Homo sapiens: one gene and its partner. The protein of the gene in region 1 binds, or shares a complex with, the protein of each later gene. Each region holds a gene or a part of one and is shown in the gene's direction. Other genes may lie near its edges.

Region 1 (16,408 bases):
GTTAAAGGGGTTAGAATGCTAGGTGCCAATCTTGAGGTCTCAAGTCTGGTGGGAGGCATGGGTATATTAACTGTTTTTTAAGTACTGGCTGCCATCAAGGAATTCTGCCATGCAGTTCACCTCTAACTTAAAGTGTTTGCTTCTTTGAACTGGTTAGCTTTTGATTTACATGACAGTACACTGTGCTTTGTAAAAGTAACATTGAGCTGGGAAGGGTTAATGAACTAAAATTTTAATGCACGTTATGGGCACTTCAAAACCTCAGTTCTTTGTAGTTGTGTAATTTTCTTCGTTCATTGTTTTGCATGATACAAAAATCATAATTTTGGACCTGAATGCACAATTTCCTATGTTTTTGAACTAGCTTGTGGTATCGTAAAGCTTTTAATTTAACTTTTAAAAAGCTAAAAAGCTTCTTAATTTATTGTAAAATTTCACCATCTTTAAAGTATTTTATAATTACTACTGTCCTTTGATTTGTTTCCATTTATTTCTATTATCTTGCAGCATCTTTTATCCAAATTCTTCTTTCTTATAAATCTTGTAAGTAGGAACCAGAAGCTTCTCCTTAATTGCAGTCATGTTTTTATTTTTTTCATAATTCCATTAAAAATTTGATTGTCATTGTCTCTTGTAGTTTTTGCACTTGGGAAGAAAAATACTTTTCTGTGTTTTGAATGGGGAAGATTGTTGGCAAGAGCAAATTAATCTGCCTGAATCAGTCCCATTATTTCTGTATACTAGTCTGGTCATGTCATGAATTCCAGGACTTTGCACTAACTGTGTTTTGGCTTTTTTTTTTTTTTTTTTTTTTAAAGCTTTAAGCTTATTTTTATACAGATTTAGTGTTTGATTTGTATGCATTCTGCATGTAGTGTTTTTCAAATGTATTATTGCTGGATAGCTTATTTAGGACTAAAAATGGCTCATGGGAAGTTGCATAAAGATTTATGCTTGACTCTGTATTCTATTAAATCTATTATAAAATAATTTAAGCATTTCATGTAGAGTAATAAAAGATTTCAGAGTGATTTTCAATACACTGTGAAATCTTTTGTTAAAAATAAAAGCAACTTTCAAAGGGCTTCTGTTTCAGTGATAACAAATGACCATGATAATCTTTTTTATCAATCCAATTTTCTGATTTATCAGCCTCAAGTTAGCTGCTGTCTGTGGTTGTTAAAATTCATTCTCATTTTGCTTGGTTGAGCGATTCTTTGGTGTGTGTTTTGGAGTTGGGTGGGTGGTGGGAATGCTCTCTTTTTCTCCCTGCCCACTTCTCATCCTTACTTTGCCCTCTCCCTAAAGTATACAGACTGGCATAGGGTTGCCCATTTAATTAGGATGTCCATCTGGGGTAATGTGTAAATTGCAGTAGCTATTTTTCTTAACGTTTAAGCATCATTCTGTAGGGGGAAGAAAAAACAGAAAAGAAATAATAGAAAAGCCAAATTCTGTATTATATATCTGTATGTGGATACAGATATATACAAATGTACTCTGCTGATCAAAAATTCAGTTGAAAAATGCTTCTTGTACCATCTGTTAAACTGACAATGCCACTGTAAATTAATTGTAACCTATTTTCAAAGAAGATTTCAGAGAGCCCTTTTTAAAAATATTAAGACATAGTTGCTAAACAAAAGCACTTATTGGATTCAAGTAGCTATTTAATGACACCAATATTTGATCTTTGTGTCCAGGGTCCCATGAGCCTACGTGGCATATTGCAAATATAATAAAACCCTCCTTTTCTCTCCCCAGCCATTACAACACAAGCTAGCATGGAGTTTCGACGGAAAGGGTCACAAATGTCCACAGACACCATGGTTTCCAATCCTATGTTTGATGCAAGTGAATTTCCTGATAACTATGAAGCAGGAAGAGCTGAGGCTTGTGGGACACTGTGTAGGATTTTTTGTAGCAAGAAGACTGGAGAAGAGATTCTGCCAGCTTATTTATCCAGGTCTTGGAATTTTTGTTTGTTTTTTCATTTATATAGTTTTGATAGTGAAGCCATTGTTGGTTGGCCGACTGAACCGATGAGTGATGTTGGTCTGAAATACCTACAGATGTCTGTAAGTGATCGACATTTGCCTGAAATCTTTCATTTTACCTGTCTCATCAGATTTGGTAAAGACCCTTAAGACCCTTTTTGTTTTAGAAGTGCTATTTATGTCATCTTATTTGAATCTTTTTAATATGGAGAGATTTCGAAGGACCACAATTATTTGTTAACAAATTTTTAGCACAGTATTCCCATGTAGGCAGTCCAGAAATAAGTCAGCTGTAAATCCTGCCTCCAAGGAGCTTATTTTCTGGGCAAAGCCCCAAACAAAGCCGTGTACACATGTAACAATGATCCAGCAGGAATTAGGATATTGATGGGAGAGGCACAGATAATGTGCTGTGGGCATTCAGGGGAAGAAGCAGCGCACATTTATTTACTGTAGGGGATTCAGGAAAGAGTTTTGGGGGATTAAATGATTATGCTGGACTTATAAAGGATGAGTAGCATTTAGCCTATGTTAGAAAGTTGGTTAGGGTCATCTTCTCCAAATCTATGGCTTCAGCCATCTTTGTTAATGCCTCTGCCATCCATTCAGTTGCTCAGGCCAGAAACGAAGAGTCATTTTAGAATCCTCTTCTTCTGTATCTTTAGTTGATCAACCGATCAACCAACTCTTGCCTTCCTGCTACTTAACTCTCTTTCTGATCTCTCTTTTCACTCTATCCCCACCATTATACTTTAGACTTTGTCACTTTTCTCCTAAATTAACTCATAATGGCCTCCCGTTCTTCTTGACACTGTTTTGCCTTCCTTAACTGATCATTCACACAAGTGCAGAAGTGAGGTTAATATCAACAGAGTATTTAGATATCTGCATACTTGCTAGGTTCTCAGGAGATAGAATTAAACTGACCCTATCAGAGGGAACCAAGTACAGAATTTTATAGATATGAAAAAGAATGGTATATACAGGCAAATAGGCAGGGTTATCATAACTATCGGCGCTTGGTTTAAGCAACAGAAACCCTCTCAATCTGACTTAAGTAAAAGGAGAAGAAGTTGTGAGAAGCTAGTGATATTTATTAAATTCTAAGGTCAGGAAATGCAGTATGGCCTCATGAAGAGCAGATACTCAAGGACCAAAACAACTTTATTCCTCTCTCTTTCTCTGTCTTCCTGGTCTGCCAGAACTGCTTCATTCTTCTCTTCTCTGCAGATCATTTTCTCTTATTGTAGTGTGCTTCTGAGTTCCCAGTTTTCATTAGCCGGGCATGATGGCATTTGCCTGTAGTCCCAGCTACTCGGGAAGCTGAGGCAGAAGAATCGCTTCAACCCAGGAGGCGGAGGTTGCAGTGAGCCGAGATTGTGCCACTGCACTCCAGCCTGGGCGACAGAGTGAGACTCCGTCTCAAAAAAAAAAAAAAGTTCCCAGTTTTCATGGCCTTGGTCTAGGTGACCATCAGGACCAATTAGTATCTCTGAATTTTAATTATAGACTCCTGGGAAGGAGGATCTAATTAATCTGCCTGTCTCTGGTCTAGTCAGCTACAGTTGTGAAGGTGGGTCACATAAGGGTGTTGGAGCTCACCCACTTGTTGTGGGGGCATGTTTCTCAGGAACTCTGGGCTGGGGAGATATCCTAAATGGTACTTTGGTAGTAGGGGAGAAGGCTATCACCATGAACTTTCTGACTGAGCCATAAGACTGAATGGGTGGTAGTAGGACAAACCAAAACAACAGATTCATGAGAGGGCAAGTTATTAGTTTAGTTTTGAATCGATTGAATTTGAAGTGCCTATGGGATATTTATCAACAAATATTTATTAAGTCCTACTTTGTGCCAGATATTGTGCACAGAAGTACCATAATAATCACTAGACATCCAGATATCCAGTAAGCTTTTGGGTAATAGATCTGGAGTTCAGTTGAGAGGTGTGGGTTAGAATGATTTGATTATATTTAGTGACTTAAGAAGTGTTTAAAATCAGGTTAGTAAAAGAGAGAGCTTTGAGAACTAAGGTTGTCAGACTGAGGAACACCATCTTTAGGGGGCAGGTAGAGTAAGAGGACCTGTAAAAGAAAATGGTCATAGAAATCAGGGAAGAGCAAGGAGAGAAGGGAGTAGTTAGAGGGCTGAATGCTTTCAAAAGGCAGAATGAGTTAAGACTTAGTCATGTCTCTTGGATTTGGCAATCGAGAGCCCATTGGTTATTTGCTAGTATGGTTTTAGTTGAGTTCTAGGGAGAGAGATAGATTGAAATGGGTTGAGCAGTAACCAGTAGGTGATGAAGTTGTTTCTGAAGAGTTTTGCAGAGAAGAGAAACTCACCTCACAATAGAAGAGTATAACAGTGCAGCTGCTGTTGAATAACGGGAGATTGAATGCTTAGTAAGTTGATTAGAGGTTGGGGGTGGAGTTAAAAACTAAGCTATATTCAGGTATATTCCTAAAAGGAATCTTATTCAGGTGACCTTCATGATGAATACAGATGATCGAATGCAGGTTTCTTTCTTTCATTGTCCCCCCAAAAATAATGGGGAAGGGACAAAAATGTAAACACACCTTTTTCCCTAGGAATTACTAAATGTTGCAACATTTTTCTCTTACGGAATTTAACTCAGCAGTTCCCCCAGTTTATTGAAAAGTACTGCAGCCTGTTGTTTTGTTTTGTTCTGGTTGCCTTATTTGCAGGCCCCTAGAACTTTGAGTTGCAAGGCTTAAGGTTTGAGAAGGTGCAACAGACATGAATTTTTTTTTTTCTTCATTAAGAAAGATGATTTGGGTCTTAGTGTATATGATTCAGAATTGTTCTAATTCCAGTAATATCCTTTAAAGGGTAAAATTCCAGTAATTCCAGTAATAACTTTTAAAGGGTAAAATTCTAATAAATTCCAGTAATTCCAATAATGTCCTTTCTTTAAAGGGTAAAAATAGTGATGAGTGGAAATAGACTTTCAGTTAACTATGTAGCAAATAATAATTATGAAAACTTTTGATCAGCAGTTTGTTTAAAATTTTTTTCTTGCTTTCCTAGATTTTACATGCTTTTAATTCAAGGTTTGCAGATAAATGATTATGTGTGCCATCCTGTCTTGGCCAGCGTTATTCTAAACTCTCCTCCTTTGTTCTGCTGTGACTTGAAAGGGATTGATGTTGTGGTTCCTTACTTTATTTCAGCTCTTGAAACCATTTTGCCTGACAGGTAAGCTATCATTCTCTGCTATTATATCAACTGTCTGATTTGGCCTGGTCTGTTGGTGCTTCCTCCCCAGTTTCCTAATGTATCCTGTCCAGTTGTCTTCATAGTCCAAGAGAACTCAGGCGACATTAAATGAGTGTAGTGTGTCCAAACCCACCTCATCCCTGAAATCCTTCAGTTCTCATTTGTCTGTGGGCTTGTTGAATCGTTTTTGGCCTGGTCTAGAAGGGTAAGAACAACTCCAACACAGAGGTCTTACCTTTGTAGAGTAGGCCTTACGTTTTAGGTAAAGAAATCAATCAATCAACTTCTAGTTTAATTCAGTAACAGTTTAACTTAGAAATATACAATATACAAATACACAATGCTTGGATTTGGAAAAATTGGCATTATATGTATTTGGCAGTAGCTAAAAATGTGCTTTAGTTCAAAAATACTAATAGCTTTTTATTTTTTGGCAGAGAACTCTCAAAATTCAAAAGCTATGTAAATCCAACAGAATTGCGAAGATCCTCCATTAATATCCTGCTTTCTTTGTTGCCCCTCCCTCATCATTTTGGCACAGTCAAATCTGAGGTAATGTTTTGTTAAAGTTTTTTTATATCCTATATTCTGTTTTTTGTACTAATTTAAGTCAAATCGAATGTTAAAAATGAAACAGGAGCTTTTTTTATTTTTCAATTCAAGTTATTTCATCAAGTTATTTCAAGTGAATTAACAAAGTTGACTTGTGATTTTTTTTTTTTGTTCTGTCAGTTTTTCTACCAGTTTTCAAGCAGTTATAGGCTAAGGACATCTATTAACATATTGTTAGTGACAGATTCAGCACAGTGGCTAATATTAGACTGAAAGCCTTTCTCATTATACTGATCCGTTCCTCCATCTAGCTGTTCCCACATGGGCATCATAAGCTGCAACAGCTGATGTTAAATATTATTTGTTTTTTCCATAGGTGGTCCTGGAAGGAAAGTTTAGTAACGATGACAGCTCTTCTTATGATAAACCAATAACTTTTCTGTCCCTGAAGTTGAGACTTGTGAATATATTAATAGGTGCCTTGCAAACTGAAACGGACCCCAACAACACCCAAATGATATTAGGTTTGTATTCACACGTTATTTTGTAAGTGAAACCAAAGTACTGTTGACTACAGGCCTGCTGAGGAGGCGGCAGTCGGTAATGGGAGCCTAAACCTAATGTAGCTCTACTTACTCTGAATCAGAGGCACAAGTTAGTTTTTTAATGTAAAAAAATTTAAAGCAGTGAGATGAGGGAAGTAAAGTGTTACAGTTGTCTTGGTTGGTCATTTATTTGTGCTTTTGCTTTTCTTTCTCTTCTCCCTTCTCTCCTTTCTCCACTCTTTGCCTCTCCTTCCCATCCCTCTCTTCTTTCCTCCTTTCTTCCTGCTCTCCTTCCTCCTGCCTCTTTCTCTTCCTCCCGCCTCGTCCTCTTCCTCCTGCCTCTTCCTCTTCTTCTTGCCTCTTCCTCTTACTCCTGCCCATTACTTACAGGTCTCATCAGTCTGCACTTTCGTCCTAGTCCTTTTTTTCTCAAACACATCAGCTAATGATTTCTTCAGAACCTTACTTTATATCCCTCCTGCTGGGGTGTTCTTTCCCTAGATTTTTGTTTAGCTTTTCTTCATCATCTTCTTAAGAGAGAGCTTCCCTAACAATACTTGCTAAAGATTATCTTATTTCATCATTTTTTTCACAACACAAAACCTGAAATTATCTTGTTTGCTTAAATGCTTAAACTCCCCGCTTTTTACATGTTTTTCAAAATATATCATAAGGTATTTGGTGATTGACAAATCTAGTGTTAGCACTAAGGGACAGTCTTATCTCCCTGAAAATCTTCAGAGAGACCCTGATGAACAGAGGAGCTCTTCTTTTCTTCCTCTAATCTGATGTTCAAATTGGGTAAACAGCAATGTATTACATTTGAAAGCAAAGGGTTTTCAGTTGTTGCTTCTGTGTCTCAGTGCCACTAAAGTGCAATCCTGGGTATTGAGATCACCACCCTTGACAGTGGAAGCTCTTAGGAAAGTAGGGCTTTCCTCAGCCACCTAACAGGAGTCCCCACTGAACCATGTGAATGCAAATACCATCCCAGCCCACAAACCTGGGTGGCAGTTAGAACTCCCCGCTTATGGAGCAATTGATCTCTGAGGATGACTTGACCTTGGCAGTGGTTAGAGGCTTTCTTTCTTCTCTTCATTAGCAAGACTAGAATTCAGCTTCTTCCTAGCATCTTAGATTTTTATCTGTTCAAAAGTGGGATCAGACATTCCCTTTAAGCCCTTATGCCCCCAGAGGAGGTGGGGTGTATGTCCTTCCAACAGGAACACAATCCTTGAAATGGTTTCTAAAAGGCCTCTAAAACTGAGGGACAGATCCTGAAGAGATGGGTCACAACGGCCAAGAACCATATTTATCCAGAGACACCTAATTAGTAGGTGACTGGAGTTGTCTGTAGCTGGGCAAAAAGTTTTTTAGGGTTTCGTAAGTCTCAAAAGCCATTAATTGTGGACATGATTTTCTAGACTCACAAATGGAGTTTTTTGCTCTTTACATTCTCAGTTATGATGTATAGCTATATTCTTGTTCAGGCTGGGCTTTTAGAGACCTTCTGAAGTTAATGTGGTCAGTCTGACCAAGGTTTGGAACCAGAGTCTACCAGTGGCATTGATAATATCTCAGATACATTCTGAACACAGAGGGTGGTTTATGTGGAGGGGGATGTTTTGATATGTGAGAACCTCCAAGTTACAATGTTTTAGGTTATTTAAATAACATAATTTTGCTTGAAATTATATAATTTCTACGATTGAAGCAGTATTTGGTTTTGTTACACCCTTGCTCTGAGGCACTCCCTATGTACTTTCCAAGGAAGAGTCAGTTGTTACTCTTGCCATAAAGTGGCAAAGCTCTTTCCATCTTCTCTTTATCCATAGTGGGCAAGAGTACCTCCCACGGGGATGAGAAGCAGTGTGTTAGGCTCACCATCTCATTTCTGTCCTAGCCTTTCCAGGACAATGGTTTCCTTGATAATAAATAAATGAAGCTTACTTCAGGGTATGCAGATGTCAACAAGCCCCAGACTGTGTGGCTTTAATCATTCTTAAAAAGCAGTGTGGTCAGAAAGCTATTGCTGTGACTTTATTTTGTAATTTTTGTTTTATTTATTTGTTTCTTTTTCCCTGTAGAAAAAACAGACAGTAATGTTTGTTTTATTTTTAAGACTAGAACCTAGTTTTGAAAGTATTCCATAATATTTTCCTTAGTTTATATTACCCTTGAAATTGAGATGCTTACATCTGGTCTTTTACACCAGTTAAAAAATATCTGATAATGAGCATGTTTTTATATAAAGCAAGTTTGACCTTCACATTCATTTTATTTTTATTTATTTATTTATTTATTTATTTATTTATTTATTTATTTAAATACAAGTTCTTGCTCTGTTGCCCAGGCTGGAGCGCAGTGGTGCAATCATGGGTCACTGCAGCCCAAGCTCCTGGACTCAAGTGATTCTTCTGCCGCAACCTCTGAAGTAGCTGGGACCACAGGCGTGTGCCACCACACCTGGCTAATTTTTTGTTGTTGTTAGAATAGGGTCTTGCTCTGTTGCCCAGGCTGGTCTCGGACTTCTGGGCTTCTCCAGTCCTCCCTCCTTAGCCTCCCAAAATGCTGGGATTACAGGTGTGAGCCACTGTGCCTGGCCCACATTTATTTTAGGGAATTTTTTTTTTTTGAGATGGAGTCTCGCTGTGTCACCCAGGCTAGAGGGCAGTGGCATGATCTTGGCTTATTGCAACCTCTGCCTCCTGGGTTCAAGCAATTCTTCCACCTCACCCTCCTGAGTACCTGGGATTACTGGCACCCGCCACCACGCCCAGCTAATTTTTGTATTTTTTAGTAGACACAGGATTTTACCATGTTGGCCAAGCTGGTCTTGAACTCCTGATAGCAAATGATCTACCTGCCTTACCCTTCCAAAGTGCTGGGATTATAGGCATGAACCAATGCACCTGGCCAGAATTAAGGAATTTTTAAAGAGTCTCTTCTGACCAATCAGTGGATTTATTAGTAGAGTTGACCCTTGAACAACATGGGTGTTAGTGATGCCAATTCCCTGAGTAGTTGAGATCCACATATAACTTTTTGATTCCCTAAAAACTTAACTACTGATAGCCTACTGTTGACCAGAAACCTTACCCATACCAGTTGATTAACACATATTTTGTATTTTATGCATATTATTAATATATACTGCATTTTTACAATAAAGTATGCTGGAGAAAAGAATATTTTATTAAGAAATACATGTTGTAATCCCAGCATTTTGGGAAGCTGAGGTGGGTGACTCACGAGACCACCCTGGCCAGCATGGTGAAACCCTGTATCTACTAAAAATACAAAAATTAGCAGGGTGTGATGGCACATGCCTGTAGTCTCAGCTACTTGGGAGGCTGAGATAGGAGAATGTTTGAACACGGGAGGCGGAGGTTGCAGTGAGCCAAGATCATGCCATTGCACTGCAGCCTGGGCAATAAGAGCGAAACTCCGTCTCAAAAAAAAAAAATAAAATAAAAATAAAAATAAAGCTTGGGCGTGGTGGCTCATGCCTGTAATCCCAGAACTTTGGGAGGCCGAGGTGGGTGGATCACGAGGTGAGGAGTTCAAGACCAGCCTGGCCAAGATGGTGAAACCCCGTCTCTACTCAAAATACAAAAAAGAAAAAAAAAATTAGCCAGGCGTGGTGGCAGGCGCCTGTAATTCCAGCTACTCGGAGGCCGAGGCAGAGAATTGCTTGAACCCGGGAGGTGGAGGTTGCAGTGAGCCAAGATCACGCTACTGGACTCCAGCCTGGGTGACGGAGTGAGGCTCCATCTCAAAAAAAAGAAAATCATAAGGAAGAGAAAATACATTTACAGTACTGTATTTATTGATACCATAAATTGTCTGTTTATAAGATAAATCGTCTCAACTGTTGGGCAGTTGTAGCTGTAGACCCCAATCTACAGTACATATCAAGCAACTCAGCTTTTTCTTGTAATGTCATGACTTTTCTCTGCTTCTTGGGAGCACTTCCAGCATCACTAGTGGCACTTCCTATGGGTCCCATGGCGTTAGTCAAGGTTCATGGTGTTGCAGTAAACATGATGAAAACATGTGAGAACCATGGTATGCAATTTACTGCAGTGTTCAGTCTGTTAGAGAGATGAACTACTCACATGGAGATGGTTAGCATCACATTGTATTTTAAGCAGCATACTCATTAACACTTGAGCTCACCCCAGTAACAACAGGAGGAGGCTACAAAATGATTACAGTAGTGCAGTATGTACTACAGCTAATTTTATACAGTTATTTAATACTACATCTTTGTTTACATTTCTCTGGACTGCAAATGGCATCATGTATGGTCTGTAAGTGTTTGTGTACGTAAGTTTTTTGATAAATTTTAGCTTTTTATTTTTTATTTATTTTTAGAGACAGGGTCTTGCTTTGTTGCCCACTCTGGTCTCAAACTCCTAGGACTTCAAGCAATCCTGCTGACTCGGCCTCCCAAAGTGCTAGAATTACAGGCATGAGCTAGTATGCCCGGCCAATTTTAACTTTTTATACTTTTTTAAATATTTCTTTTCTTTCTCTTTTTTTTTTTTTGAGATGAAGTCTCGCTCTGTTGTCCAGGCTGGAGAGCAGTGGTGCAATTTCGGCTCACTGCAACCTCCACCTCCCAGGTTCAAGCAATTCCCCTGCCTCAGCCTCCTGAGTAGCTGAGATTACAGGCGCACACCACCATACCCGGCTAATTTTTGTATTTTTAGTAGAGATGGGGTTTCACCATGTTGACCAGGCTAGTCTCGAACTCTTGACCTCCCGCCCCACTTCGGCCACCCAAAGTGCTGGGATTATAGGCATGAACCACTGTGCCTGGCCATTTTTTTTTTTTTTTAATATTTCTAGGCTATGCAGTTTGGGAGTTTTTTCAAATTGTCACAGATCTCCAAAAAACTTTCTAACATGTTTATTGAAAAAAACCTGCATATGTACAGTTCAAGCTCTTGTTTAAGAGCCAACTATAATTTCATGGGTATTTCAGGAATGCTCAACCAAAATTATATTCTTATCTGTACTATTAATCATATAAAATGTCTTACGCATTTTAGTGTTCTTGTGTATTTTATATAAAATACTGTTTTATTGTTGTTGTAGGGGCAATGTTAAATATTGTTCAAGATTCAGCACTTTTGGAAGCCATTGGTTGCCAGATGGAGATGGTAAGAAGCATACATGCAATCTGTCAGAGAATATCACTTTTGAATTTCATGTAAATTATATTCCAGAATGTCCATCTTTGTGAATTTTAAAGGCCTTTGGTTTGTAAATCCTGCTCATTGGCTCAGAAGTTTTCTTTTTAAAAATAATGTATATTTTGAGGTTTGCTTTTCAGTGCCTCTTCAGCTGTACATCAGGTTCCCGAGATATTCTGTATGAGAGAAACTACAGCTAAATCCAGTCTTTATTCCTGAACAGTGTCTGCTTAAAACTGTTACTTGTTTTGCTGTGGTGGCAAACTTGGTTGAATAACCTAGGAAAAGCCCTAGCCAGCAAGCAACTAGTTTAACTTTTTCTTACCCATCAATTCTTTCTAACCCCTCTAGACCTAAGTTTGCAGGTCCCTCAAAGCACCAATGCTTCCAAATCAAAAATGCTTCTCAGAGACTTCCAGTGCTCTCTGCTTTGTCTTCAAGATATATCATCCCTATACTTGGAGTATAGGCAAGACAATGGAGGGGTTAATAGGGTATACTGGGGTAAGTTGGGTAGATGTAGTAAGCTGAGTAGATGTAAGATGGGTGATCAAATTATTATTACGGAAATTACATTCGTGTCTCAGTAGATGGTGAATAATAATTTACTGATCTGAATATAATGAACTGTGTTTATATGGGGAAAAATGAGGGAAGTCTAACAGATAGGTTTATTAGCCCCTATACATACGGGAGTTAAAACTAACCCTAGTATTGTTTGTGTTTTCTGATATAACTGTATTTGAAAGTTGCCGTTTGTTTATTCATGCCTTTTTGTTTTTTGTTTTGTTTTGTTTTGCTTTGGTTTTGAGACAGAGTCTCGCTCTGACTCCCAGGCTTGAGTGCAGTGGCGCAATCTCTGCTCGCTGCAAACTCCGCCTCCCAGGTTCCTGCCATTCTTCTGCCTCAGCCTCCCGAGTAGCTGGGACTACAGGCGCCTGCCACTGCGCCCGGCTAATTTTTTTGTATTTTTTAATAGAGATGGGGTTTCACTGTGTTAGCCAGGATGGTCTCGATCTCCTGACCTCGTGATCCGCCTGCCTCGGCCTCCCAAAGTGCCGGGATTACAGGTGTGAGCCAGCGCGCCTGGCCTTATTCATGCTTTTTAAGCTTATATTTCTGTTCTGAGGTTTTGCTTGGGAGGCACTAGGGTATTCTTTTTAAGGACCTGGAATCTAGTGAAGTCTAGTAAAGATGAAAAAGCTGGGCCAGCCCTTTGTAAATAGTGGCAAAGAAGACCCCAGTATGGGCACTTGTAGTAGTACAAATCCTTCATACCCTCCAGTAGATTTGTGTGTGTAAAAATACCACAGTGGTTTTAATCCCTTGTCAATTTCTGTTACTATCAGTTTGTACTATTCAGTTGGCACATTCTGCTTTATCAACATGGTTTTTAATGATTGACCTTTATTTATGCTTGTAAACTGTGATGTAATCCTCACTTGATTCATTTTCATTTGACTAGGGTGGTGGAGAAAATAACCTGAAGAGTCATAGTCGCACCAATAGTGGTATTAGTTCAGCAAGTGGTGGAAGCACGGAGCCCACGACTCCCGATAGTGAGAGACCTGCTCAAGCTCTCTTAAGAGATTATGGTTAGTCGTGTTTCTTTTGAAATTCAAAGTTTAATAGAATGACTTTAATGCTTACATTTATAAAACAAAAACATTAAAAATGTTAATGTTCATGTTTTTTATATACTTAAGTATAATAGAGAGGATGTCAGTCTTAAGAAGCTAAGAAAAAACAAATCTTTTTGATTTAGCTGTATAGCTTTTGGGTAGTATATTAGATTTGGGGTAGTATATTAGGTTTTATAATTGATAGTAATGGGTGATCAGTAAACATTTCTGAATTCTCTACCATGTGTGGTGGTAGAGAACCAAATAAGATGTGGACTCTGCCTCAGAGCTCACAGTGTAGTGGCAGAGATGTCCAATAAGCCAGTTATTGCAGTGTGGCAAGGAGGGTAATGGGGGATGGATTAGATAGCAGCCCAGAGGAGAGCATGTCTTCATGTTAAAACCTGTGTACCCCCTACTGTAGCTCACTAGATTCTTTAGCCCTGAAACATTTTTATTTTCTGCCCTGCCAAGTAAAACATTTGCCAGCCAAGCATCCTATACAAGGTTGTCCCCTACCTTGGGCAGTTGTTTTATGGATTCTGTGAGTTTGTGGGTACCTTTATGTTTTTCTACACAAGTACTAACAGTGTATTAAATCTGTGAGCACTTATCCAGCTAGATTGGAGTGATATCTAGATTCTTAGATGTGAGTTTAATCCTTTAATCATCTGGAGAGTTCATGAGCCATGTTCATGAGGTTCATGAGGCATGTCATGAGCCATGTTCATGAGTTCATGAATTCATGAGGCATGTTTCTATGGTTTAAGTTTGCAACAAGTATCCTTGAACATGTCAGATATACATAAAGCCATTATGTGGATATTTGACACATTTAAATATTATATTCGTGAAGAAGTTATTTAAATTATCTTATTCACTGTGTATGTAGATTTAGGTATTCTATAGGTTGAAAATTATTTTTCATGCTTTCTGAAACACATTTAAGCTAAATAAATTTTTCAGTACTGGCTGGGCGCAGTGGCTCACTCCTGTAATCCCAGCACTTTGGGAGGCCAAGGTGGGCGGATCACCTGAGGTCAGGAGTTCGAGACCAGCCTGGCCAACGTGGTGAAACCCCATCTCTACTAAAAATACAAAAATTAGCTGGGGGTGGGGGTGGGTGCCTGTAATCCCAGTTACTCTGGAGGCCAAGGTAGGAGACTCTCTTGAACCTGGGAGGCAGAGGTTGCAGTGAGCCAAGATTGCGCCACTGTACTCCAGCCTGGGCAACAGAGCGAGACTCCATCTCAAAAAAAAAAAAAAAAAACAGAAAACAAAAACAAAAAAAGAAATTTTTCATTACTGCATGTGTTCTAATATAAATGTTTTAAGTGATTATTGTTTGTTTCAGCATTTTGAGCTGGTGTTAGTGAGCTCTGCTTGTAATGTCGTAAAATATTTTTTACTAAGAAATCCTGATTTGTGTTAGTGTCGCATGAGTGTCTCTCTTTAATGATCATTCCTTTTTCTGTTGTCACTGCCCTCTTTCTGATAGGATCGACAGGTATAATGTCCCTAAAGCTTCCTTTATAAATTCAGTTTAATTTGTCTTTATTTAATTTTTCCTAATTTCCTATTAGCTAACTAGTGATTGCTTTTACATATAGATTGGAGCCCAAATAAAAATATGGTGGCTTGGTTATTTAATTTTTTTAGAAGTATTAAAGTAATCCTGGAGAATTAAATGTTAAAGTATGTTTGAAAAGGCATTGCATGTGAGTTTTGATGGCTTAAACCCTGTAAGTAATTTCAACAGATGCTTGCTTCAGAGTAATTCCTAGCATCTGAGGAGGCCGTAAAATTAGAACTTTCCTCTGTAAAGTTTCAAGGAAATAATTGATAGCCTTTTCATCACTCTTTTTGAAAATGTAGCTATGAGTTGATAATTTAGAAACTTTAAATTACGTTGTTATGAAAATGACACTGAAACTGCCAAATCCCACGGTTGTGTCAAAGTGCGTGAACCAGGAACTAGAAGCTGCTCTGGTCTAGCACATGTGCCTGTGCACCGTGTAGTCAGGCTTGGCACTCAACCCAGTGGGGTGGGGAGCGTAGCACTGTGTGGGTGCCCGTCGTTCTCACTGTGGCTGCTGTGGTCTGTGCCTAGTGGATGCTGTGCTTCTCGTTACTAATGCTTAGTTGTTTTCCCTCCCTGTGGGATGTGGCATTGGGGTTATATCCTAGCTCTTAATACAGATTCAGCTGCTGGGCTCCTGATTCGCAGCATTCATCTCGTCACCCAAAGACTCAACTCCCAGTGGCGCCAAGACATGAGCATATCACTGGCAGCTCTAGAGCTCCTCTCTGGCCTTGCAAAGGTGAGGAAGACAGTCCTTTTATTTTAACCCAACAGCCTTGGGCCTTGGCTGTTTTTTCTGTATCTCTTAACCCCTTGTGTGGGTATTTTAGTGTTGATCATGCTCAAACATAGTTTATATTATATCCAAAGTGTACAAAATTTAGCCTCCAAGTGATATTCTATGCAATGAACTTTACTTTTTAAAAATAGGTTCAAAGAGTATGAATGAGATTTTTACCGTTAAATTATAGGAAACATTTCAATACTTGCCATTTATTTATTTGCATATAATACTAGAATGCATATTGATTTTGTAAAAAATGATTATCCTAATGTATGCCATTTGGGATTACCTGTGGCTCTGCCATCCTCCATTATCAGAGATAAGTGAAAACTGGCTACACCTTTTTTTTTTTTTTTTTGAGACGGAGTCTTGCTCTGTCGCCCAGTCTGTAGCGTAGTCGTGCAAACTTGTTGCACTGCAGCCTCCGCTTCCAAGCAATCCCCCTGCCTCAGCCTCCAACTAGCTGGGATTACAGGCATACGCCATCACAGCCAGCTAATTTTTGTGTTTTTAGTAGAGATGGGGTTTCACCATGTTGGCCAGGCTGATCTCGAACTTCTGACCTCAGGTGATCCACCCGCCTTGGCCTCCCAAAGTGCTAGGATTCCAGGTGTGAGCTACTGCACCTGGCCTTGGCTACACTTTTTAGATTTCTTTCCCAGCCGTTACTTCAGTTTTTTGGAAACTTAGAACTTGGTGGTCATTTGTGCTTCTCTAAGTGTATTCTTTTGAGATGAAATTTGTGTAATATAAAATTAGCCATTTAAAAGCAAACAATTCAGTGACTGTTGGTACATTCACAATGTTGAGCAACTTCTACTTCTAGTTCCAAAATGTTTTTATCATCCCTAAAGGAAACCCCATACCCATGAAGCAGTTTTGCTTCAG
Region 2 (10,433 bases), on another chromosome or scaffold:
TACAGCAGCCAAGTCAGGGTTCTGTTGGCTTCATTTTTAATGTGTCTTACAAAATTATTGTGTAAGTTGTTTAAAATAACACTTATGATTGTCTAAATAGTAGTAAAAATGTGAATTTGAACATAAACCTAATATTGTGCTACAGATTTTTTCAGTTAATTTTTAAGAGTTGTCACTGCATTTAAGAACCATCCTCTAATTTTAATATGCACTCTGATTTTCAAAAGGGTGTTTTTGCTTGTAAATAACTTGTGCCAGTATTACTGAATACGTTTCTATATAAGTTTTTGCAGACTTTAATAGTTATGACATAAATTTTTATCAGAGTGGTTCTCAGTTCAACACAAAATAAAAATGAAATATTTACTCTTAAGAGTAGCAAAAACATAGAATCTGAAAAATAATTTTTTTCCAGTTATCTCAAATCTTAACTTTTCTGTCATAAGTCCCATACATATAGAGCTCCCTTTAAAGTTATAAGTCAAAGTGGACAGAGAAGACATAAAATAAGCTGTATAATAGCAGTTTGGACCTGACTGCTGGTTTGCAAAAATGACATAATAGTGTAAAGTTTTTAATCTTTTTCCTAGCAGAAGTATAAAATGTGTTCACCACATTGAAAAAATGGATTCATAATTGCAATTGAAAAATCAACTTTAGATATCCTGTGCACACCCTATGTATATAAAATAGTACTAATCAATACTAATATGGTCATTTGAAATTAAATTTTAAAGAAATGCCAAAATGGTGATTATATTCTGTCTAACCAACCCTATAACATAATTATATTCAGTGGAATAGTATAGAAAAATAATATTTATTATTATTATTATTATTACACTTTAAATTTTAGGGTACATGTGCACAATGTGCAGGTTAGTTACATATGTATACATGTGCCATGCTGGTGTGCTGCACCCATTAACTCGTCATTTAGCATTATTTTTTTAAGATTTCTTAATTTGGTTCAAGATTATCTAAAGCCCACTTTCTGGTTAGCGGTAACGTGCAAATCAACTGTGGTGACATTTAAATCCGAGAAAACATTTTTCCGTATTACTTTCAGTATTATTAAAATAGATATGAAAGATTTTGGTGCATCATAGTTGATCCATAAATTTCATAACTGTATTTTCTCAAAATGTACTGTCTGTGGCAGTAGACTGATACTTAAGGGAAATTATTTTTATCCCTAAGGTCATTGAGGGAAATATCGTGATGTCACACTTTGTTGATCTTTCATAACTACGTTAAAATATTATTAGATTTTTCTTGTCTTTTATTTTTAAAAAATTACAGGAAAAAATCCCTTTATCTTTGTCAGGCATGTGTGTGGAAAATATCAAAAGTTTTTAGTGACTTCTTAAAGTTTTTTCATATTTACAAATACCTCTCCTTTAATTATAAACTTTAAAATGAAATTACTGCTCTTCTTGGCCAGATTACACTGTTTGTTCATATGTACATGTTTCTCCCAATGTTATATTGTCTTTTCAATATTATCTTTTTTTATTTTGTAATAAGAGAAATTCTAGAATGACAACAAGAAACAGGATCCTGTTTTGCTGAAAGTGTATAGTAAATATTAATTGGTTTAACTTTCTCAATTTCAACATTAAAAATATACTCATAATTTTTTGGAGTATTATGTCTTTAAGTTACAGATTTTAGTTATTTACAGTTAAAGTGTTGATAGGTGTTTCTGTCTTTCTGTATTCATATACATATATATACATACACAAACATATATCTATACATACATAACACTTTTTATAATTACTTTTGGAGAATATAGGGGTTCCTATTTAAAGCAATATTATAAAATTAATAAAATTCAAATATAATTTTTATGATACCAAATTCAGAGATAATCAAGAGTGACTATGAAAACCTAGAGTAGTATCTAGTCTGCCTTCTAACCTCAGTTGTGCTGTTAATTTGCAAAATCTATATTCCCATATGTAGATAGGATGGAATTTATGATGGTCAGATCTATTTCTTTGAATCTTTGAGTGGGATGGATCATCAAAATTTAGCCATTGCTTTAGGTAACCTTTTTTAGCTCAATGTCCTTTAAAAGTTATTTAAACTACTCAGGCTTTGAAATGATCTGAAATAAAATATTTTAGCTCCTTAGAAGATAGTTATTTTATAAATATCTTAAATATTAGTAAGTGCCAACAGAAGAATTAGTTGCCTGCAATATGTAACATAAGCTATAAATCTGTTTATTTAATGGTTTGGTTTTTGTTTTTGTTTTTTTTGAGACAGAGGCTGGAGTGCAGTGGCGCAATCTTGGCTCACTGCAACCTCCACCTCCCGGGTTCAAGCAATTCTCCTGCCTCAGCCTCTCAAGTAGCTGGGATTACAGGCCCATGCCACCACTCCTGGCTGATTTTTGTATTTTTGGTAAAGACAGGATTTCACCATGTTGGCCAGGCTGATCTCAAACTCCTGACCTCAGGTAATCCACCCACCTCAGCCTCCCAAATTGCTGCGGTTACAGATTTGAGTCACCATACCTGGCTAATTAATGTTTTTAAAAACAGATTCCTACGCATATTAATTTATCATTAGATTAGCCTGAAATTATAGGCAGCCAGATATGTTCTATTTGATACTTTGAACTTGGAAATTTGGCTTATATGTTGTTGACCAAGAGGCAAGTAATAATCTTAAATAAGACCCACTAACCTTTTGTGATAACTGCTGGTTCAGTTTCCACATAGAACATTCACTGAGATGTGAAATTTTTGTAATGAAAATAATAAAATAATAATTGTGCTATTACTGAGTGCCAGACACTGTGCTCGGTACTGTACATACATTATGAAATTAAAAAATGCTTACCCAGAGTCACCTGGTACTTTGTCAAGCTAGTATTTCAACCTAGACTGATCTGATTTCAGAGGGCATGATCTTAACTATTACAGTTACCCATTTAGTCTAAATATTTTCATCCCCTTCCTGCTGTTGATAGAGAGATATTGCCCAATAACCTGTCATATTTACAAATTATAAATTGTTAAAGATTTTTATTTTAAGGGTTTTACTTTCCCACCCATTGAAAAATCTCTTTTCCCCCATATATCTTTAAGGTTGCCAGGGGAGAAGTATGAGCTTTGGAATCAAACTAATCTGGATTTAAATCCTAGTTCTGCCAGTTGTTATCCATATAAATGCAAATTAATCAATTCTCCCAATTTTTTCCTTTGTAAGGAGGAGGTAAAATATGACAAGCTTGGCCTGATTTGTTCTAAATCTAAAATACTAGTAGTTCTTGAATGTATCTTAAAATGAAACCACATGTTTGCCTTTATTTCTCTACTATTTTAAATTATGTTATTTCCTGGCCAGGCATGGTGGCTCACGCCTGTAATCCCAACCCTTTGGGAGGCTGAGGCAGGCAGATCACTTGAGGCCAAGAGTTCAAGACCAGCCTGGCCAACATGGCAAAACCCTTCTCTACTAAAAACACAAAAATTAGCTGGGCATGATGGCATGCGCCTATAATCCCAGCTACTCAGGAGGCTGAGGCAGGAGAATCACTTGAACCCGGGAGGCAGAGGCTGCAGTGAGCTGAAATCGCGCCACTGCACTCCAGCCTGGGTAACAGAGTGAGACTCCCTCTCAAAATAAAGAAATAAAAATAAAAAATAAATTGTGTTATTTCCTTTATGATATTCAGTGCCATCCATGCTAATCTTAATAACTTATCAACTCCTTTAAAAATATTAAAAGCAAGGTTATTTGGGTAGCCTTTAACCTTTAATATAAGGTTATATTTTATAGGACTATCAACATAAGAGAGGATAAATTTCCTTCAAACTAAATTTAATGGTATGTTGTGCTTTTCACATTTGAACAATAATATTTTGTATAGGTGGTCATTTTCTTCAAAAATGTTCCTCATTTCTATCCCTTCGTTTCTAATCCTCATCTGTTCTGATTCAAAATGTATCAGCTTTTATTTTTCTCTGTTTAATAGCATTATTATGTAGCTATACTTACTGTGCTCCTACTATGTGCCAATATCTTTGCATATGTAATCTTAATCCCTGGGATGACTTGACAAAATTGCAAGTATTAGCTCCATTTTACGAATACAAAAATGTCTCAAGTCAGTTTGCCCAAGATCAAACAGCTGGTAAAGTGACAGAGTCGGCATTTAATCTAGGACTGTCTAACCTATGCCCATGTTCTTTCTAACAAATCACATCGTCGCTGGAGTTCAGTATTAATTGAAATTGCTTTTAAAGATATAATATTTTATAGGGCTATATCTGCCCAATAATTAGCAGCTTTAAACCAGTCATACCTGTCACCAAACAGTACAAACGAAACCACAATAAAAAATGATCTTTTGAGCTCCCTCTTATAATCCCTATATATCCCAAAAGTCATATCCATTATGTTAATTGTAATAATAGTTTATTGTAATCAATGTGCAATATATGAATCAATTTATCCCATCAGATTACACAGTCTGTGTGAGCACTGTAAGAATGTTAGTAACAGATACGGTATGCACAAACATAGGAGCTCATGTGTACTTTTAAAACCTCATCCTTGAGGATATATTAATAATAGAAATAAATCAGCATTCTTTATGACTCAAGTAGTATAAATCAATAGGTAGAGTAGGATGTGAAATGAAATGTAGGTTGTTACTACATTTTTTACATCTAAAATTGAGGTCTTTCTACTGTAAATTATTTATAGAGTTTGGGAATGTTGAATATATACCACAAATGTAATTTGCTAAATTGTTAGGAAGTACTGATAACTATACACCACACACACTAAAAATCCTTATTTGACTCTGTTGAGTGAAGGGAGATTTCACTTTAAAGGCAGTGAGGAAGACATGGAAGAATTGTTTTTGAGGAAAATATTATTTGAGTTTGCCATAATGTAGAGCAATGCTCTCTGATAAAGCCCTCCTTCTATGGTGATGGAAATGTTCTATATCTGCACTGTCTAATGTGGAAGCCGCTAACTACATGTGGCTGTTGAACAATTGAAATGTGGCTAGTGTACTGAGGAACTGAATTTTTATTTAATTCATTTTAATTCAATAAATTTAAACTTAATGTGGCTGTGGCTACCACATTGGACAATGCAGCTCTAGAGATTTTATGTCTGAGTGATTAGGATAACATGCCAACAGTACAGTGAACACTTTAAAAGGTAGATATTTACAGAATCTCTCATAGACCTTTTTTCTTCTTTTCTTTTTTCCTATTTGAACTTGTTTTGTTAGTTGGTAAGTATAACATTTGAATTTACAAAGCATTGTCATTGTGAACCATCACCCTAATGCATTGCATGCCCAATTATATTTCATAATAAAAACCTTGATTCCTCTCTCTCTGCTCCTCAGTTAACACCTAGAAAATTCTGCACTGTGTCTCTCATATCTGTTATCTATCTTCTCTTTTGCTTTCTCACTTCTGCTTGCTACTCCATTTCTTCATTCACAACAAAGAAAGAAATGCAGTGATAGTTCTCTTCCTCCCAAAACCTCCGCTAGAAAACATTGGCCATCTCAAGGTAAACAGCAATGGGAGGGCCTCTCGTGATGGCCGGGAATGATATGCATTACCAGAAAAGCATGAGCTACTACTGCTCTTCACTTTCCTTCTGCCATCCATCTGCAGTGCTTCCCTAAAGGGGGTCATGGATTCATATTCTCCCATAAATTTTCCAGTATGGGTCTGCTATGAACCAATTCAGATCTTCAGGAAGAGTAAAGGTGAACAGAAATATGTTTCCTTCTCCTTGTATTTTGAAGGCCAGTCTTATTTCAATTAGAAAATAATGCTGGAAAAGTTACTTTGAGAAGAAGGGCAATTGACCTGGATTATGAGTGACAGAATATTTTTCCTTGGAAACATATATTTTTTCTTAAGTATAACTCTAACATTTGGTCTTAAAAACTTTTTGAAGGCCGGGTGCGGTGGCTCACGCCTGCAATCCCAGCACTTTGGGAGGCCCAGGAGGGTGGATCATGAGATCAGGAGATTGAGACCATCCTGGCCAACATGGTGAAACTCCATCTCTACTAAAATACAAAAAAATTAGCCGGGCGTGGTGGTGCGCACCTGTGGTCCCAGCTACTCAAGAGGCTGAGGCAGGGGAATCGCTTGAACCCGGGCAGTGGAGATTGCAGTGAGCCAAGATCGTGCCACTGCACTCCAGCCTGGCGACAGAGTGAGACTCCGTCTCAAAAAAAAAAAAAAAAAAAAAAAATTGAAGTGTTCTGCAAAGACATATTCTTAATTGCTTAAGACATCTCAATAGGATCTTCACCCCTTACTGAACTTTTTGTTTTTGTTTATAAACATTCAGTAACTTCAGTTTAAGCACAAAACATTTCATAGATATGAAAGTGCTAGCATAATTATTTCCTAGTTTGAAGTATCAATGAGGTGCTACATTGGCTAACAAATATGCTGAAAGTCTCCCTGTAAAGTAAGGACATGTATGTGTACAGTTAAACCTGCAACCTGTGTGGTGTTTTTGTTTGTAAAACACATAAAGAAAATTTTCATGTACTTAAGACCCAGAAAATCTGGATTAAAATGCCTTAAAATATCCAGAATCTCTTGCTGTTATTGTTTTCAGATTTTTTTTTCTGAAGGACTTTTATTTTTAATGTGATTTTAATTAATTACTCATTTTGTTTAGGAAATATTTGAAAGCCTACAGTGTGCAAGGTTCTGTAGTATTGCTGCATATTAGAGAATGATAATTTATAGAAATAAAGCACAGAGATGAAAAACTACTTTATAAATGACACAAAGAACTTTCCTATTTGATTTTGTTTTACTTCTAAAATTGTATATCTACTAATTCTACTGGTTACCTGCTTGCTTATGATTGAATAAGATACCTGCAAAAGTTTAAGTTAATGAAAACAAAAGCATTGTTTATGTCTTTTAAATTAAGACATTTTGGGGGAGTCAGTTTGCCTTTTTTTAACTGACATTCAGAGGAGAATTCTTGTCCTCCCCTCATCCACAAATTTATCTTGCTCCTTCTTAAAGCCGTCTTTAAATACCTAGCATGTATATGATCTCATAGTGCTGAGTTCCTTTTTTTGTTTTGTTTTGTTTATAAGGGCATCTAGTGAAACTGACTTCCTTTTTGAAACCCGTGGTTCCAAAACTGTTTGGAACTGTTTGGTGCTGTTTTTCAAGTTTGAGTAGTGAAGGCTCTTTTCTTGGTTGTACCCTGAATCCTAGAGATAGGAATTGGTCCTTCTCACCTGCTTCTTGACCCCTTCCCTGCATGCTGATGGTGCTTTGGATCCCTGTTCTTTCTGGCTCAAAGATTTTGCTTCCCACTGCTTTTTCCAGGGTTCTAGCCCTGGGAATGATGATTGGCGCTTTCTTGCTAATATAATGACATGAGCCACCAGATTGCTGGGTTTTAAATACATTAGTAGGCTATTGTAACAAGCAAGTTTGGGGCTTGCTTTTTCCCTCGAAAGATCTTATTAAGGGATGGGATCCTTGCTGCAGATTAGTAGCAGAAAGATTATTTCTCAGGGGATGAGAGGCTGGATAACTGTAGTAATGCTCTTGCTGTTTCCTACAGGCTCCTACCCAGAGATTCTACCCAGTGAAACTCCCACAGCAACGCAGGTAGATGGGGCTGACCTGGCCTCTCCAATGTCTCCTCGAACTAGCAAAAGCCGCATGTCCATGAAGCTGCGTCGTTCCTCTGGCTCAGCCAATAAATCCTAAGGAGACAAGCAGCCCAGCAGTGATCAGCAGTAGCCACCTTAGCACGAACATAGGGTTAACCCTTTCAGGCCTTCATGTCTGCCATAACATGCATGTTTCTTCCTGTACATTTATTTGAGAAAACACTGGATTTAAATAATTTTAAATAATTTGTAGCTTAATATTAAAGATTTAAGTTATTTATTGTTTCATTTTTTTTCCCACAATCCAAGCTGCCATATTTTGAGGGCAGGGGGAGTTTTATTCTACACCCTTTACCTTCCTAGATAATTATGTCTAAGTAGTTTTATCTTTAATTTCATGGTTAACTGTGAGCCAAAATACAATTGGACAATTAGTCTCATTATTTATTGTGCCCCATTGCAACTTTATGGTTCAATAAATATATAATTTTTTACAAATGTAAAATTTTACATTTAAGCATTTGTAAAGTTACAGCAAAAGATGTACCTGTTAATACACAGAATGTGTACAGATTATTTGTTATGACAATAAAACACTCAAAATAAATGGTCTTTAGCATCTCAAATTCCAACTGAAATCATTTTAGTATTAACTCTTCTTCCCAAAGCAATGTCTCATTTCTTGGCTGTGCAGGTGATGCCATGTTATATCCAATAACTAGAAAAATCACTGTGCTGAACTTTTATGTTTAGCTTCCAAGTATTTTTCTAATGTTTTGCATTTCAAGTGGTATCACTGTTAAATGCCATTTGTTTTCAGATTGTGGCCTTTTATTATTGGCTGCTAGATCCTGGTGTTTCTATGTTCTTTTTTAAGCACCAAAAAGAAGATGGGGAAGAAAAGAAGGAAAATTTTCTGATATAAATATGTTGTTCAAATTATGAGTATTATTTAAAAAAGAAAAAGGAACATAACCCAGGAGTCTAAGTTAAATCTAATATTGTTAATACTGAACTTGCAGGTCCAGGTTGGTATACATTCCACCCTCTAGAAGTATTTTCTTACAGTAGATAAGCTGCTCACATTTTGTTTTGAATGGGCATCTCCTGAGGAAATGTAGCATGACATTGGTACTAACTGCATGTGTAAATACATCATACTGGCAAACCGTAAAATATAAATTATGTATCATCATTCATGTAGTATCTATAATTTGTAACAGTGGGGGGGAAAGATGACATGGTATTTAATAATACAATAAAAATATTCTTATCACTTCCTATCCATGAGTGTTGATTTGTCTTCTATGTTTCATATATTTTCAATAAGCAGGGCTATATGAGTAGTGAGGAGATTTAAAGCATGAACCTAGATTATCTTAGCTAATCATCAAAAATAAACTTGAATTCCCTTTTCAAGATACATTCCAACTTATTTCTCACAGATCCTACCACAGTCGTTAAAAACACAGGAAATTTTCTGTCTTCATAAAGGCTGGCCAGAAATTCACCCAATGCAGTTGGTTAGATTGTTAGTTTATCTCAGCTTCATGTTTTTGTTTTGTTTTGTTTTGCTTTTTGAGACGGAGTCTCCCTGTCACCCAGGCTGGCGCGATCTCGGCTCACTGCAACCTCCGCCTCCCAGGTTCAAGCAGTTCTCCTACCTCAGCCTCCTGAGTAGCTGGAACTATAGGCGTGTGCCACCACGCCCGGCTAATTTTTTTGTTTTGTTTTGTTTTTTGTTTTTTGTTTTTTAGTAGAAACGGGGTTTCACCGTGTTAGCCAGGATGGTCTCCATCTCCTGACCTCGTGATCCGCCCACCTCGGCCTCCCAAAGTGCTGGGATTACAGCTTCATGTTTTTTTGATTCTTAAATTTTACTTTGTTTTATAATATACTTTCAGCAATAAAACTTCGTACTAACAAGTTTCTAAGACAATCTTTCAGAAATTCTGTGCACCCAATTTCATTTTCTTATAAATGAAAACTAAAAGTCCTATGTAAGCTGATGTAGAAGATAAACAAATGGATAGAGTCCTTGGGAAGAAGATTGAACAATGTAGACAATTTCCTACAGCCAAGGTGAAGAATTACAAAAAGGAAAATCAGAGTAACTGCATACATGTTTCTAAAGTGCTATAAAAAATCTAATGGATTGATGATATATAACAATATGGAGTAAAAATACAAACCTGAAATAATGAAATTAATTAGCACCATTAAAATACTTCTTTTCATCTTCAGGTAACACTGTTCACTAGCTTGAAATATATATATATATATATTTAAAATATGTTTTCGGTTGACATTTCTTGGGGGGGATGTCTTTTTTAGATTCAAAGACTAGTGCATATTCCTTGCTTTTTGCAGCTCAGTCTTTGCAGCCATACTTCAAAGGAAAATTTTTCATTGCATTCCTGCACCATCACATTCATTTGCAAAATATTTCCGTCTTTGTATTCTGTCCAAATGGGTCACTAACATTCTAAAACAGGATACCGACATTGGGGAGATAAGAAATGTGGCTTTGAAAATAGGCTGTGTTCAACAGGATTCTTAAGACAAACACAGAACACAACAAAAGCACAGTCTATGTACATTTATTTGGTGGTAAGCATCTTACAAATACGGGCTTTCTGTCAGGCAGTGCTCAGCCAATGTCCCAAACTGGCTAGTAGGGAATTAGTACACAATGTACACTGAAATGGTTTTTTAAAAAAATCAAAAACAAGTTGCCGCTGAAAAGAAAATACTGAATATTGAGCAAATTGCCATT

The links.
Region 2: RALGAPB (region 1) and RALGAPA1 share a complex: the UniProt entries of both Homo sapiens proteins name them as parts of the heterodimeric RalGAP1 complex.

The regions. Positions count from the first base shown.
Region 1 is NC_000020.11:38,519,733-38,536,140, forward strand, and holds part of RALGAPB (ral GTPase-activating protein subunit beta), read left to right. Parts: intron 1-507; coding exon of another isoform or gene 508-543; intron 544-1,764; coding exon 1,765-1,966; intron 1,967-5,045; coding exon 5,046-5,213; intron 5,214-5,671; coding exon 5,672-5,786; intron 5,787-6,162; coding exon 6,163-6,310; intron 6,311-11,434; coding exon 11,435-11,499; intron 11,500-12,997; coding exon 12,998-13,127; intron 13,128-15,341; coding exon 15,342-15,475; intron 15,476-15,480; exon of another isoform or gene 15,481-16,408. UniProt on the Homo sapiens protein: Non-catalytic subunit of the heterodimeric RalGAP1 and RalGAP2 complexes which act as GTPase activators for the Ras-like small GTPases RALA and RALB.
Region 2 is NC_000014.9:35,536,863-35,547,295, reverse strand, and holds the end of RALGAPA1 (ral GTPase-activating protein subunit alpha-1), read left to right. Parts: intron 1-3,795; exon of another isoform or gene 3,796-5,254; intron 5,255-5,266; coding exon of another isoform or gene 5,267-5,269; intron 5,270-7,605; coding exon of another isoform or gene 7,606-7,754; 3' UTR 7,755-8,940; downstream 8,941-10,433. UniProt on the Homo sapiens protein: Catalytic subunit of the heterodimeric RalGAP1 complex which acts as a GTPase activator for the Ras-like small GTPases RALA and RALB.